Linked DNA regions of Homo sapiens. The protein of the gene in region 3 purifies or fractionates together with the protein of the main gene of each other region. This does not show direct contact. Each region holds a gene or a part of one and is shown on either strand. Other genes may lie near its edges.

Region 1 (3,500 bases), on a different chromosome or scaffold from region 3:
GTTTTGTATTTTTAGTAGAGATGTGGTTTCCCCATGTTGGCCAGGATGGTCTCGATCTCTTGACCTCGTGATCCACCTGCCTCAGCCTCCCAAAGTGCTGGGACACTAAATTTTTAAAGCGGTCTATGAACCAAAAAATGGTGACCTACTGTGGTACAGTGTGTGCATACTTCTGTGTAGAAAGAATTTGAGCAATAGTCCTTATTTATTAGATTTTAGATGCTGGAAGTGGTTGACAGACAGATGATCTGTAAAAACCACTCTAAAGGTCATTAAGAAGAAGACAACTATCTGGCAGGGTCAGCAGAACCTCTAGAAGCCATGAAAATGTTTGTATCTTTTGACATGGTAATCCATTTCAGGAGGGAAATAATCCAAAAGGAGGAAAAAACTAGAAAGTTTCACATACACTCTGATGACAATTATGTAAAGAAGATAGAGATACCCAAAACTATACTGAATTCCTTCTCAGAAGTCAACCTCTATGCCAAATAAACTCACCACTGAAGAAGAGAAGGAAGATGCTGAATACCAGGTGGGACTGGATTTCACCTTGGAAGAAACCTGTGAGGCAAAAGAACGATTATTTTGATAAATGAGAGCAGAAAGTTATTTAAAATTTAGCAAATAGCTACTATATGCTATTTGCTATAGTATATAGGGGGTATGTTTCTCTCAAAGGCCATACAGTCATTAAAGAGAAAAGATATGAATCTATGACACAGCAAACTATGAACAAACAATAAACCATAATAATCATGTCCTATATTTCCAGGATAGTACTGATTAAAAAAAATCTTTTTGTCATTATATTTTCCTAATTTGGGCCTGGCAAATGTACCATAAATCTAACAATATGAAAATACTTAGCATGGTATCTAACACAATAGGTACTGAATTTAAGATCATATAAAATCAATGTGCTGGGCATGGTGACTCACGCCTGTAATCTCAGCACTTTGGGAAGCTGAGACGGGTATATCACTTGAGTCTAGGAGTTTTGAGACCACCCTGGGCAACATGGCAAAACCTTGTCTACAAAAAATTAAAAAATTAGCCAGGCAGTGGTGGCACATGCCTGTGGTCCCAGCTACTAGGGAGGCCAAGGTGGGAGGATTGCTTCAGCCCGGGAGGGTGAGGCTGCAGTGAACCGTGATTATGCCACTGCACTCCAGCCAGGAAGAGAGAGGGAGACCTTGTCTCAAAAAAAAAAATCAATGTAAATATAAATATAAGTAATAGAGTATATAATCAATGTAAATATAAATCAAAATTTATTACCAAATGCAATTAAAATTATGTCCATATAGGTATTTGAAAAATGAATGTTCATAAGAACTTTATTTGTAGTAGCCCAAAACTTGGAAACAACCCAATGTCTACCATTGGATGGGTGAATAAGGAAACTAATGTGGTATATTCATACACTGGAATACTACTCAGCAAAAAAAGGAATGACCTGCTGATACATGCAATATAAATAGTCATAATAATTATGGCAAGAGACAGAAGTTAGATAATAAAAGTACATACTGTATGATTCTACTTATGTAACACTAGAGAATGCAAACAAATCTGTAATATCAGAAAGCAGAACAGTGGTTACCTAGGGATGACGAGGGAAACTTTTTGGGGTGATGGACATATGTTCATTATGTTGATTGTGATGCTATTTTCACAGGTGTATACAAATGTTAAAACTCATCAAACTGCATACTTTAAATATGTACAGATTGTTTTGTGTCAATTTTATTTTAATAAAGCTATATTGAAATGCCATAGGTACATTAAAGGAAAAAATGTGTTGGATAGATAATATTTGATGGAGTAAAATCAGTAAACGGGGAGGATCAGTTTCAACAAGATAACTCTCAAATTGTAACTCACTAAAAAAGTCTGTATATATGTTATCAAAGTTGATTTTTTGAGATGGAGTCTCACTCTGTCGCCCAGGCTGGAGTGCAGTGGCATGATCTCGGCTCACTGCAACCTCTGCCTCCCGTGTTCAAGCGATTCTCCTGCCTCAGCCTGCCAAGTAGCTCAGATTATAGGTGTCTGCCACCACGCCCAGCTAATTTTCTTTTTATTTATTTATTTTTTGAGACAGAATTTTGCTCTCATTGACCAGGCTGGAGTACAGTGGCATGACCTTGGCTCACTGCAACCTCCACCTCCTGGGTTCAAGCTTTTCTCCTGCCTCAGCCTCCTGAGTAGCTGAGATTACAGACACCCGCCACCATGCCTGGCTAATTTTATTTTATTTTTTTTGTATTTTTAGTAGAGATGGGGTTTCACCATGTTGGCCTGGCTGGTCTCAAACTCCTGACCTCAGGTGATCCACCCGCCTCAGCCTCCCAGAGTGCTGGGATTACAGGTGTAAGCCACTGCACCCAGCCTATATATATGTTATCAAAGTTGATTTAAGAAATACTTAAGCCAATCAAAATGAGCAAACTAAAATACTCAGGACTGGGATATAAAGGAAAGCTGCAATCTAATAATCTTTTATCTTGCCTGAAAAGGGACTCTGTTAACCAGAGTATAGAGCTGCATGAAGGGTGCCTGCAGCACTGCCCAGGAAAAGGTGGTGGTCCTTTGGTCCAGCAGATAGTCCTTCCAAATACCTCATCTGTTTGCTCTTCTATTCCCTACCAAAGCCATTTCAAACCACTGACACTCTCCTGGAGCCCATCATGTCTTATTTATAGCTATGTTCCCAATACCAATATAGTACTCGGTAGGTAGTAGGTGTTCAGTAAATATCTGCTGAATAAAATAGAAGCCCATTCCTGTCTGCTTCCTACCCCAAACTAGGTTAAGAGGCCCTTTTTTGTCCTCTGAAAGCAGCCAATACTTCCCGTTTCAGGCTTATCTCTCTGTGTTGTAATTGTTTGGTATCTTATTCCGTTTTGTGTTGCTATAACAAAATACCTGAGACTGGGCAATTTATAAGGAAAAGTAGTTTATTTAGTTCATGATTCTGCAGGCTGGGAAGTTCAAGGGAATGGCTCTAGCTTCTGGCGAGGGCTTCTGTCCTGTGTCATAATATAACAGAGAAGATCAAAGGGGAAGCAGACCTGTGTGAAGAGGCAAAACTGGGGGGGTATCCTGGCTTTATAGCCCACTCACACAGGAACTAATCCATTCCCATGGGAACTAATCCAGTCTCAAAAGAGCAAGAATTCACTCACTACAGCACAAAGCCATTCATGAGGGATCCACCCCCATGACCCAAACACCTCCCACTAGGTCCCAACACTATCACATTGGAGATTAAATTTCAACATGAGTTTTGGTGGAGACAAACCAACCATATCCAAGCCACAGCACCTGGGTACTTATCTGTTACCCATAAAGACTGTCAGTTTCAGGAGGGTTGACACTGCATCTGTCTTGTTCACCTACTTCAGAGTTAAAGATTAAACCTGATCAGGACTGTCCAGTTATAGAAAAGTAGTTAGCACAAAGCTGGTACTCATTAAATCTTATTGTTATGTCAT
Region 2 (3,500 bases), on a different chromosome or scaffold from region 3:
GTGACCTGGAAGATGAGTGAGTAGTTGGCAAAGAACAGGGCCAGAATTTAGCATGACAGTGATGGAACTGTGCCATTTTAGAATAATCTGCAAAGTCAAAGGTCAATGTTAATGAAATATTTTATGACCTGGTCAGACAGATAAATAGAAAAACACCAGTGGAAAAGAAACAGCCTAAAAAGAAATCATGTCTGCTGCTCTAGGCCCATAGTCAGCAGCAGCTCTGAGCTAGGTTACAGGAATGAAGAACTATTGCCTAATTGGAAAGTGCCAGCATTCCAGACTTCAAAAAATAAATTTGAAGAGGCTTCTCCTGTTTTATACATTATGTGAAGAATTTAGATCTTATATTGGTTTGTATAAGTTCCCTGGAGAAAAAAAACTGCTCTGTGTATATCTCTTGGAAAATAAGACATAACAGATGTGAAAATATACTTGACTCTAATATGATTATACAAAAGAGCATGGATGCATTTCAAATGTTAGATATTGCTACTATAATCAAATGATTTCATATTGACCTTTTTATCATGATTCCTCCCTATCAAGCACTAAAAAGTTGAACCATCATACTTTATATCTGTAATGATATTGATATTGCAGTAGATAACTTTTTTGAATCAATTACCTCATTTTATATTTTAAAAATTATGGAATATCCTCTGTCATTATATTCTAATTGAAATTGTGCATAATGCTTTGGAAAAATGGGTCTTTTATAGGAAAAAAACTGGGGTAACTGATTTCTACGACTTTCAAAGCTAAAATATACAATATACTAAACCAACTCTAATATTGCTTCTTGTGTTTTACTGTCAGATTAAATTACAGTTCTTATGTATGATTAAATTTTAGTATATTAAAAAACAAATGGCATCATTAGGCCCAGGCTAACCATCAGGTCATAGTGAAAGAATGAAGAGACACAGAGAAAAAGACCTGCCCTACCTCCTGATGCCTAACACCGCACCTATCTCCTTTCCCTCGGGCTTCTTCTTCATCATAGAGATAAGGGGCCCTTTACCCCCATCTCTGCTTCTTGCCCACTGCCCTCAGAACTCTAATCCAGTCCCAAGGCCTCCCGTGTCCTCAATAATGGTATCACTTACAGAGGGATATTCGCTTTTCACTGGTAGTTTATTCAGGTAGCTATAGGTCTTGTCTTTTTGGATAGGGCAGTTAATTCCACTCTTACAACCATCAGGCTCAGGAATGGGAAAGGGAACTGGGACGCCCATCAGGATGCCATGCACCACGGCCTTGCTGCTTTTAGACTGAATATCTAAGAGAAAAAAAGAGAATCAGATGGCAAAGAAAATAACCTATTTTCAAACTCTAAATCAAAAATTCAGAAATAATCCCAAGCAACAGCATTCCTAGGGTCTATTTCTCTTGATAGTGGTGCTTGGTACTAGCACAGTGCAAGCATTCACTCCAAACACAATTATGCAAAAAAAAAAAAAAAAAAAAAAACAATCAGCAGAAGTTTTCTTTGCTCTTAACCTTGCTCTTCATGGCCCTTCACAGTTTCTTAGGAGAATCAGAGATACCTGGATAAACAACCTTATCTAACAAGGCAACTGATTTTTGGCAGTAAACTTTCTGTTTGCTATTTATATCAGCTTCTGTCCAAGTATATTGTGTGTCTTAAATGTCATGGTCTGTAACAACAGTGAAAGAGGTAACCCTTTAGCAGGGTAAGATTAGGCTGGATCACAGTAGCTCCCACCTGTAATCCCAGCACTTTGGGAGGCTGAGGCGGGTGGATCATCTGAGGTCAGGAGTTTGAGACCAGCCTGGCCAACATGGAAAAACCCTGTCTCTACTAAAACTACAAAAATTAGCCGGGCGTGGTGGCGCATGCCTGTCATCTCAGCTACTCAAGAGGCTGAGGCGGGAGAATCGCTTGAGCCCAGGAGGCGGAGGTTGCAGTGTGCTGAGATTGCGCCACTGCACTCCAGCCTGGGTGACAGAGCGAGACTCTGTCACAAAAAAAAAAAAAAAAAAAAAAAAAAAAAAGAAATTGGGTAAGATTAGAAAGACATGCAATTCTTTATAAACTTTACCCTCCACATCACAAGATGGCCAGGAGGAATAAAGGTATTAAAAAATGAGGGCAATCAGACTTATGAGTTATTAGGGTATTTTGGAGACCCAGAAAATTGGTTCTGTTTCTTTCCTTCTGTCTGGGTTGGGGATGACTTGTTCAGAAGGCTTTTTTTTTTGGTTTGGAACAATAGAGAGGCCAGGGTATAGTCCAGAGAGGAAACAGGGAGCTAGTACTTAGAGCTGTCTTTAGGCTTATGAACAAAAGATGACAGGAACTTTGAGGTTTCTTATTAGACTGTCTAGTCTAGTTTCACAGGACAGAAAATGAGGAAAAGATTCAAGGAACATGCCCTGCTTAGTAATAAAAGATTTTACATTTGTCTAGATTCTTAAAAATCTCAAAGTGATGTGGTACAAGAAAGCAAAAAGTTCCAATGATATTTCTTGAATATTGGAGAAGAAAGCTCAGATTTCTTGGCTATTTCTTGGGTCCCCAGTGGGTTCCCTAAATCTTAAGGAGGCTGTTAAGTATTAGTTGCACCTTTATTTTCAGGTGGGATGTAGACTTAATAGCTGAAAGGCATTACTGCTTAAAACAACATTTTGGAGGAGTTCCAAAGCTTAAAGAATTGGGGTCCATACTAATACTCTGCAGTCTGTAGCTAAACAGAGCTGACATTCCCATCATAGCCTACTATGCAATATGGGTCAAGACAGAAAAGCCAAGCTGTCTTCTCTAACCTGTGAACACATGGACATCTCCCTGTTTGCTTAAAGGGAGTCTGGGAGCCATGGACCCTGCATGAGAAGGGTGTCCAAGGGCACAGTGAACCCTAGCTTTGCATGAGGTGCAAAAGAAATCATAAAATTCATGACTGCCAATTCCCCTCCCCTCCATTCCCATGCTTATTCCAACACTTGATATTTAGGTTATGCTGTAACATGAATTTGAGTTAAGAGCCACTTTTACGCACTGCTGGTGAAGGTGACATTGACGCTGTAAGACTGTCCTTTGCTCAGCTGGCAGGGTTGGGTGGGGCATGGGCTCACATTCACTTCCTTTATAACTCCATCCACAGAACCTGCAAAAGAAAAATGAATTGGAATAGGAGAATAGGAGGAGAAATAAGCCAGCTAGGCTGCCCACCACCTAATGGGAAGGTGCTCTGCTCTCCCATTTAGGGTCAACTCATTCTCCTCGGACTGTTTCCCAGGATGGAATCTTTAAGAATAATGCCCAATTAGAAGTCAGAATCTTGATTCATCTTGCTGCTAAAATCATAGCCTTTAATTCAGATGATAAAGAAGCTAGTTGGTTTTTTGATCAAGAGAAAGTTAATATTTGTCAAACTAAATAATATCAAGACCATATCCATAAATGATCATATTAAAGGAATTAAACTTCAATCAGAGAAATTCCAAACATTCCTAGAGTCTTATCTCGCATTCTT
Region 3 (3,500 bases):
ACAGAAAGTTAGTGGTTCTCTGGGCTGGGGGTAATGGGGATTAACTGTAAATGAACAAGAGAGATCTTACGGTAGGATGAAAATATTCTAAAACTTATTTATGGTAATGACTGTACTACTCGAGAAAGTTACTAAACATCTGTTTTTTCTTTCTTTCTTCCTTTCTTTCCTCCCCCCTTCCTTCTCTTCCTCCCCTTCCCTCCCTCCCTTCTCTCTCCCTCCCTCCCTCTTTCTCTTCTGTTCTCGTCTCTTCTCTTTTTTCTTTTTTTGAGACAGGGTCTCACTGTCACCATCTCAGCTCACTGCAACCTCTGCCTCCCGGACTCAAGCAATTCTCCTGCCTCACTTTCTTGAGTAGCTGGGACTACAGGCGTGCACCACCATGCCCGGCTAATTTTTGTATTTTGAGTACAGACAGGGTTTCATCATGTTGGCCAGGCTGGTCTCGAACTCCTGACCTCAAATGACCCGCCCACCTCGGCCTCCCAAAGTGCTGGATAGTATGCCAAAGGTCTTATAATTTAAAGAATTAAGGCTACATATGTATCTTAATGGCTCCAAAAGGTTTCCTAACACATTTCTGAAAATCAAGTATCAAATATCCTTTTAAAAAAATATGATACATGAGATGGCTCAAAAATAAAAATGAATTTATAAGGAATTCTCCATAAATAACCAAAGACATTAAAACAAAAACAGAAACATCAAGACATAACAATCCTAAATATAAATGCCTGCCCTAATAACAGAACTTCTAATAAAATGAAGTAACAACTTGCAGAACTACAAAGTGAAATATTCAATTGTAATTGGTAATTTTAATAACCAATCTCAATAACTAAACTCAACTGATAGAATAAATACACAGAAAATCTGTAAGACTACAGAAGACTAGAAAAATACTGTCAACTCATTTGACCTGACGTTTATAGAACACACTCACCTCAGCCTCCTGAGTAGCTGGCATTACAGGCACATGCCATCACATCCAACTAATTTTTATATTTTTTGTGGAGACAGAGTTTTGCCATGTTACCCAGGCTGGTCTCAAACTCTTGGGCTTAATACACATTCGTGTCAAGGGCACATGAAACATTTACCAAGGCCAGGTGTGGTGGCTCATGAATAATTCTAGCACTTTGGGAGGCCGACGTGAGTGGATCACTTGAGGTCAGGAGTTTGAGACCAGCCTGGCCAACATGGTGAAACCCCATCTCTACTAAAAATATAAAAAAATTAGCTGGGTGTGGTGGCACACGCCTGTAGTCCCAGCTACTCGGGAGGCTGAGGCATGAGAATCGCTTGAACCAGGGAGGTGGAGGTTGCAGTGAGCCGAGACTGCATCACTGCACTCCAGCCTGGGCGACAGAGTAAGACACTACTTTGTCTTAAAAAAAAAAAAAGAAACATTTACCAAGACAGAACATATTCAGAATCATTAAACAAACCTAAATAAAGAATTAAAATCATACAAAGTATATTCTTTCACCAAAATGAAACTAAATTAGAAATAAATAATGGAAAGCTAGCTGGAAAATCTCTAAACATTTAGAAATCATCAACACATTTGTAAATAAGTTCATGAGTTAAAAAAAAAAAACCCACAAAGGAAATAAGAAAATATTTCGAAATGAAAACACATAAAAAGTCATCAGATAGAAATAAAGCAGTCCTCAGAGGAAAATTTACAGCATTAAACATTTAGGAAAAAAATATTGATGAGCTAAACCAGGGATCAAACTATGGCCCACAGCCCATTTTTGTAAATAATTTTTTATTGCAATTTAACAATGTCTCATCATTGACTTATTGTCTATGGATGTTTCATGCTATAAGGGCAGAGTTGAGTAGCTGTGGGAGAGGCTATTTGGTCCACTAAGGCTAAAATATTAATTGGCCTTTTACAGAAAAAGTTTGCTGACCCCTAACCTAAGCTTCCATTGTAAGAAATTAGAAAAAAAAAAAAAAAAAAAAAAAAAAGCAAATTATTTACAATGTAAGGAGAAAAAAAGAGATTTTATAAAAGAGCAAAATTCAATGAGAAAGAAAACAAACATAGATTAAATCAGTGAAGCCAAAATCTGGTTTTTTGTGTAAAATTAATAAACTTTTAGTCACACTGATGAGAAAAAAGATATTACAAATATAAGGAATAAGTATGGGGATATCACTATAGATCCTACACAGATAAAAAAATAAGGTAATATTAGGAACTATATGACAATAAATTTGACACATTAGCTGAAATGAACCAATTCCTTGAAAGACAAACTACCAAAGCTCACTGAAGAAACAGAAAACCTTAACAGCCCTATATATTAAACATACGTAATTTGTAATTCAAAACCTTCCCCTAAAGAAAAGAACAGAGCAATATCCCTCATGTATATAGAAACTATAAAATTCATTACAAAATTTTAGCAAATAAAATTCAGAAGCATCTTTTTTTTTTTTTTTTTTTTTTTTGAGACAGTCTGGCTCTGTCACCCAGGCTAGAGTGCAGTGGTTCAACGGCGGCTCACTGCAACCTCCACCTCCTGGGTTCAAGTGATTCTCATGCCTCAGCCTCCCGAGTAGCTGAGACTACAGGTGCACGCCACCACGCCAGGTGATTTTTGTATTTTTAGTAGAGATGCCTGGCTGATTTTTGTATTTTTAGTAGAGATGGGGTTTCACCATGTTGGCCAGGCTGGTCTTGAACTCCTGACCTCAAGTGACACACCCGCCTTGGCCTTCCAACATGCTGGGATTATAGGCGTGAGCCACCACACCGGCCCAGAAGCATCTCTTTATCTGCCCATACATTCAATCTGTGGTGATATATTGATTTAAAGTATATATAGGAAAAATCTGGGCCGGGCATGGTGGCTCAAGCCTGTAATTCCAGCACTTTGGGAGGCCGAGGTGGGCGGATCACCTGAGATCAGGAGTTCAAGACCAGCCTGACCAACATGGTGAAACCCCATCTCTATTAAAAATACAAAAAAATCAGTTGGGTGTGGTGGTGTGCACCTGTAATCCCAGCTACTTGGGAGGCTGAGGCATGAGAATCGCTTGAGCCCAGGAGGCAGAGGTTGCAGTGAGCCGAGATCATGCCACTGCACTCCAACTTAGGTGACAGAGTGAGTCCATCTCAAAAAAAAAAAAAAAATTCTGGCCTCACACAGATACAGTTTGAAAAAGAGAAGAAATATTTTTACAGATTTTTCAAATAATTCAATTCTTTCATACTGTTTCAAAACTCGACAACTGGTAATTTTAAAAAGGCCAGTTGCAATGTGGAAAATTTAAGAATGTCAATATTTTTTCAAATAACTTATATGGAAATCCACTGGTCTAATGTGCATCCTGAATGGATCATTTATCCATGCATGATTCTGTAATATCATGCATTAGTCATTTGAAAAATACTGGTTCATTGAGTTATGCAGATCTTCCAGATGTTGACATACTATACAATATTTTAAAAAATCACGTTCAATAATATAAGCACCAAGTTC
Region 4 (4,060 bases), on a different chromosome or scaffold from region 3:
CATCGTTGGCCTAGATGCTAGAGCCAAGATCTAGGTCAGGGACTCAGAGCTGCCCAAAGGAGATTTCACTTTTAAAAAGACGTTCCAGGCTATCGCTGGAATGGGATGCTGCATCTGATACCTACTTAAGTTCTGCCCTGGCTCCTGATTCTAAGTGAAACAACTAAAAAGTTAAGTTTGTCATTTTGGAGGGCAGAAGAAAGGAACAAGCCAGTGAGACATTACCTGGTTCTGACCCAAACGGAACATGAACAGGAGCCCTGGCGGCGGGGGCAGCACAGGCCTAAGCAAAGCCAAGAGCAGACGACAACTCCTGGAGAGAGCCACGCCAACAGGCAGCAAATCTTCGGTGTCTTTTAGGGAGGGCTCTTAGCAGCAGCAGAAGTGATTTTTGTACTATGCATAATAGAGATGTAAAAAAGCCTGGTCTCACAAACACCAAAAAATCCATCTCCAACGCAGAAGAGCCTTTCTAACAGAGAGGAGCTGAATTCTGCACAGAATCTATTATTCTGTGACAGGTAGGTAGAGAGAAAGCTAGACTTAGCTTCAGGGCATGAAGGGAATACGTCCCAGTTCTGCTATTAAGAGGTAAGACGGGGCTGCTCTATCTGGCCAGTCGCACCAAAAAAAAAAAGGTGGGGGGGGGTAGCTTTCTTTAGAAGGAGCTCATGTTTTCCTAAACCTTTGCTTTCTGCAGGCACTTCTCAAGGAGAGTGAGCACTGGGGAGTAGATTAACCCCAAGCTAACACTGGACAGTCGGCTGTGTCACTCCCAGCCACAACCAATCTGCTAAAATGAATCAAAAATAACCCCGCCTAGCAAAGATCAAGACAACCAAGAGAAGACAGTACTAAACCAGGTATCTACCAGCACTGCTAACTTCTGCCTCTCACCATCGCCCTCCCGCTGCAATTGCTCCTCGTGACCCGGATTGGGGAACTGATCTCACCGAATCTGGGGAGGTGATTTTCAAAGAGGCCACGGAAAAGCGTGAACCGCCGACCTCCCGCGCGTCCCCCAGCGCAGGGCCGCTCCCCCGGCCTGTCGGTGTCCCCAGCCCGGCCGTCCTCCCCGAGGCCGCCACCAGCACCCCCGCCCGCCTCTCCAGGCCCGGACCTGGCCCGCCCTCCTCCGCTCTCCAACCCGGAGTCTGCATCCTCCCTGCCCCGTGCCCGGCCCGCTAAGGACTGCGCTCTGGGTGCCGGCCCCGAGGCCGCCGCCGCCGCCGCCGCCTCCTCCTCCTCCTGCTGCTGCTCAGCCGACGCGCGAGCAGACCGGACTGGGCGCGGGGACGCGGGACGCGGGGACGCGGGCCCGGCTCGCGCGGGATCTGGGCCGGAGCGGGAGGAGGCGCCGCCGCTGGGGTACCGGGGACGCCCTGTCACGCCCCCTGCGCAGCAAACCCGGTGCCCCTCCCGCGGACCGGTCGCCACCCGCGCCTCTCCCGCGGCCACCCCCTCTGCGCCGGGGTGGACTCGGGGCCACCTGGCACCGCCTCCACCTCCACGCCACCCACACAGTGCCCCGCGAGCCCCAGCCCCGCGCCGCCCCCCCGGGGCCACGTTCCCAGCTGACCCTCCCGGGTCGTCCCCGGAGACAATGGCTCACCGCGCCTCCCGGTCCTCCGAGCTTCAGCTCGGCCACCGTCCCCACTCCCTGGGCAGTGAGTGCCGTGACTGCCCCGTTTCACAGAAGTGTAGACCAAGGCCGGGGAGATGACAGGCTAGAGGGCCAAGCAAAGAAACCCGGCTGCTAATGGGGTCGAGGAGGGTCCAGGTACAAATCAGCCAGAGACAGGCACAGATCAAAGACCAATTTCCCGTCCCGGACCGGCCCCGGCTCAGTCCGCTCGGCCTCCGGGGTAAGAGCCTCCGCCCACGCCATCTCCGCCGCCGCCTCCTCGGTCCTCCAGCGAAAGAGACAAAGAGCCGGCGCCCCAACCCGCGAAGCCGCGGCTGCCGGGAGCGGCAGACCGGGGGATTCTGCCCTAAAACGAGGGGCGGGCGCAGGGAGGGCGAGGTGGTGGCATTCGGGCCAAGCTGCCGCGCGCCCGGCTGCGCGGGCAGCGGGACACGCGGATGTGGGGCGGGCAGCCCCGGCGCATGGAAGCAGTGGTCCCAGGCGAGAGCCTGCGGGCCCCGACGGACGGACGGGCGGGCACCAGCGCGCGGTGGCCGGAGCTCGGCAGCTCCGCGGCGGGTCGGCCGAGCGCTTGGGGCAGCGCCGCTGGGCGGGCCGGCCGCAGTTGCACTCACCGGATCGGAAGAAGGCCGCGATGTCGGCCAGGTCCTTGGCCGCCTCCTCTGCCCCCTCGCCGGCACCGCCCCCGCAGCCCGAGCCAGCCGCGCTGGCCGCCGCGGCGGGGCCGGAGGACGCGGCGGGGGCGGCGGCTCCGCCGCTGCTGCCGCTCATGGCTGCGGCGGCGCCCGCGGCCGCGCCCGCCTCGGGCCCCGCGCCCCTAGCGCCGCGTGCCGCCCGCTCCGCGCCGGGCCTGGCGGCGCCGAGCACCCAGCTGCCCGCGCCCGGCGCGCGGACGCAGAGCCCCGGGGCGGCGGGGGGCGGCGGCGGCGGCTCGGCCCAAGGAGCGCGCCCACATAGACGAGGACTCCGCCCGGTAGCCGCGAGCTGGCCGAGGGGCGGAGGCGCGGAGCCACGGCCTCCCGGGCGCCGGCCGGAGCGCGGGCAGCAGCACGCGCCTCCCGGACGCGCAGTCGCGAGGGCGGGGGCCCGTGGCCGGCGAGACCTCCGGGATCACGGGCGCCGGCGGCTGCCGCGAGCCTCCATCTTGATTTCAATGGGGAAGGAAGGAGGGGGGAGGGGGAAATCACGGCCGAGGGAACCCGGGTGAAAGGAAAAGGGAGAACAGGGAACGGAGAGGAAGGAAAAAAAAGAGGGGCTTCGGTAATTTCCGGCGAACTTCGTCAAGGGCCGAGCCTGGGCTCGGCGGTGGGCGGAGCCTGGGGGAGGGGCGGGGCCGCGTTGGGCGGATGGGCTCCCGCAGGGCTGGCGGGGAGGCTGCAGGAACGTTCGGTTTGGTTCGGTCTGCTTCCCCGGGGCAGCTCCAAGCCTTGGAAGGCGCAGGAAAGCTCTGACCAGCCGGGGCGGACCTTCCCAGGCCCGGCATTGCGCCCCCAACCGGGGCGCTGGCTCCTGCACCGGTGCGCGGTCCCCTGAGCGCCGAGGCGTTTCGTCGTCTAGCCCGCAAGGCGGGGTGACGCGGGCCGGGGCGGGTGCCTCCCTAGTGGGCTCAGCGCTGGCCCTGGCTCGGGGAGGGGGCTTCTTAATAGTTGTTGAGTGAACATAGAGGGCCCGAAAACAGGTTATCTGCTCCAGTCCCGGAGGCCACGGTACTCCTAAGGGTACAAAGCTCTCCTGTAAAATGGGATTCCTCTCGGTGTATCCCCATCTCCCAGGGGACTTTCGGCTGCTGAACCTCGGGTTCACGGTTTCTCAGTCCTTACTCCGCCAGAATGAATGGGGAAGATGACGGGGTCTGGGGAGGCCAAAAGAAATGTTCCTTTGCGGAAGATCCGTGTCAAACCAGCGCTGGACGAATATTCTAGTTCAAAACGCCTATGCCCCGGCTACGAGGAGAGTGAAAGGATCCAGTGCCGGGGGAAACAGGCAGAAGCAAGAGAGATGAAAAACAACTGGGTGATGAAACCACCACACGAGTATACTGGAAATAGACAAATGTAAATGGTGGATGGTGGCCATCAAATCTTCACTGCTGGAGTGGAGGTTACAGCCAGGAAGAGGCTAGAGTGATCCTTGTGGTACAGGGTTAGAGTTGGAGACATCGTTATGGACTCATGTTTGGGGTCTACATCTATATTATATATTCATAATGTATATAATGGGTCTGTACAGAGATTTGTAGATAAAGGGTCGTACACATACTTGTATCTCTTTGCTTTGTCAGCTGAGTGGGCCTAGACACAACACTCTGTAGCAACGAATACACCTAGCGCTCTGATCTTGCTTCTAGTACCATTCTCCAATAAAAGGAGCCAGAGCTCCTTGAGGAAATGACTGATTCTAGGACTGGGACGGGAA

Evidence for each region. Proteins that work in one complex are often made in the same cells at the same time.
Region 1: the proteins of OSBPL11 (region 3) and ALDH6A1 purify together in Homo sapiens (co-immunoprecipitation; one large-scale study listed by IntAct). This does not show direct contact.
Region 2: the proteins of OSBPL11 (region 3) and NPC2 purify together in Homo sapiens (co-immunoprecipitation; one large-scale study listed by IntAct). This does not show direct contact.
Region 4: the proteins of OSBPL11 (region 3) and TRIO purify together in Homo sapiens (co-immunoprecipitation; one large-scale study listed by IntAct). This does not show direct contact.

What each region holds. Positions count from the first base shown.
Region 1 is NC_000014.9:74,074,454-74,077,953, forward strand, and holds part of ALDH6A1 (methylmalonate-semialdehyde/malonate-semialdehyde dehydrogenase [acylating], mitochondrial isoform 1 precursor), read right to left. Parts: intron 565-3,500; coding exon 502-564; intron 1-501. UniProt on the Homo sapiens protein: Malonate and methylmalonate semialdehyde dehydrogenase involved in the catabolism of valine, thymine, and compounds catabolized by way of beta-alanine, including uracil and cytidine.
Region 2 is NC_000014.9:74,483,306-74,486,805, forward strand, and holds part of NPC2 (NPC intracellular cholesterol transporter 2 isoform 2 precursor), read right to left. Parts: intron 3,132-3,500; coding exon 3,024-3,131; intron 1,283-3,023; coding exon 1,110-1,282; intron 1-1,109. UniProt on the Homo sapiens protein: Intracellular cholesterol transporter which acts in concert with NPC1 and plays an important role in the egress of cholesterol from the lysosomal compartment.
Region 3 is NC_000003.12:125,532,998-125,536,497, forward strand, and holds part of OSBPL11 (oxysterol-binding protein-related protein 11), read right to left. Parts: intron 1-3,500. UniProt on the Homo sapiens protein: Plays a role in regulating ADIPOQ and FABP4 levels in differentiating adipocytes and is also involved in regulation of adipocyte triglyceride storage. Weakly binds 25-hydroxycholesterol. Interacts with OSBPL9 to function as lipid transfer proteins.
Region 4 is NC_000005.10:14,142,082-14,146,141, reverse strand, and holds the start of TRIO (triple functional domain protein), read right to left. Parts: upstream 2,801-4,060; 5' UTR 2,417-2,800; coding exon 2,260-2,416; exon of another isoform or gene 1,613-2,259; intron 1,337-1,612; exon of another isoform or gene 1,161-1,336; coding exon of another isoform or gene 1,121-1,160; intron 1-1,120. UniProt on the Homo sapiens protein: Guanine nucleotide exchange factor (GEF) for RHOA and RAC1 GTPases. Involved in coordinating actin remodeling, which is necessary for cell migration and growth. Plays a key role in the regulation of neurite outgrowth and lamellipodia formation.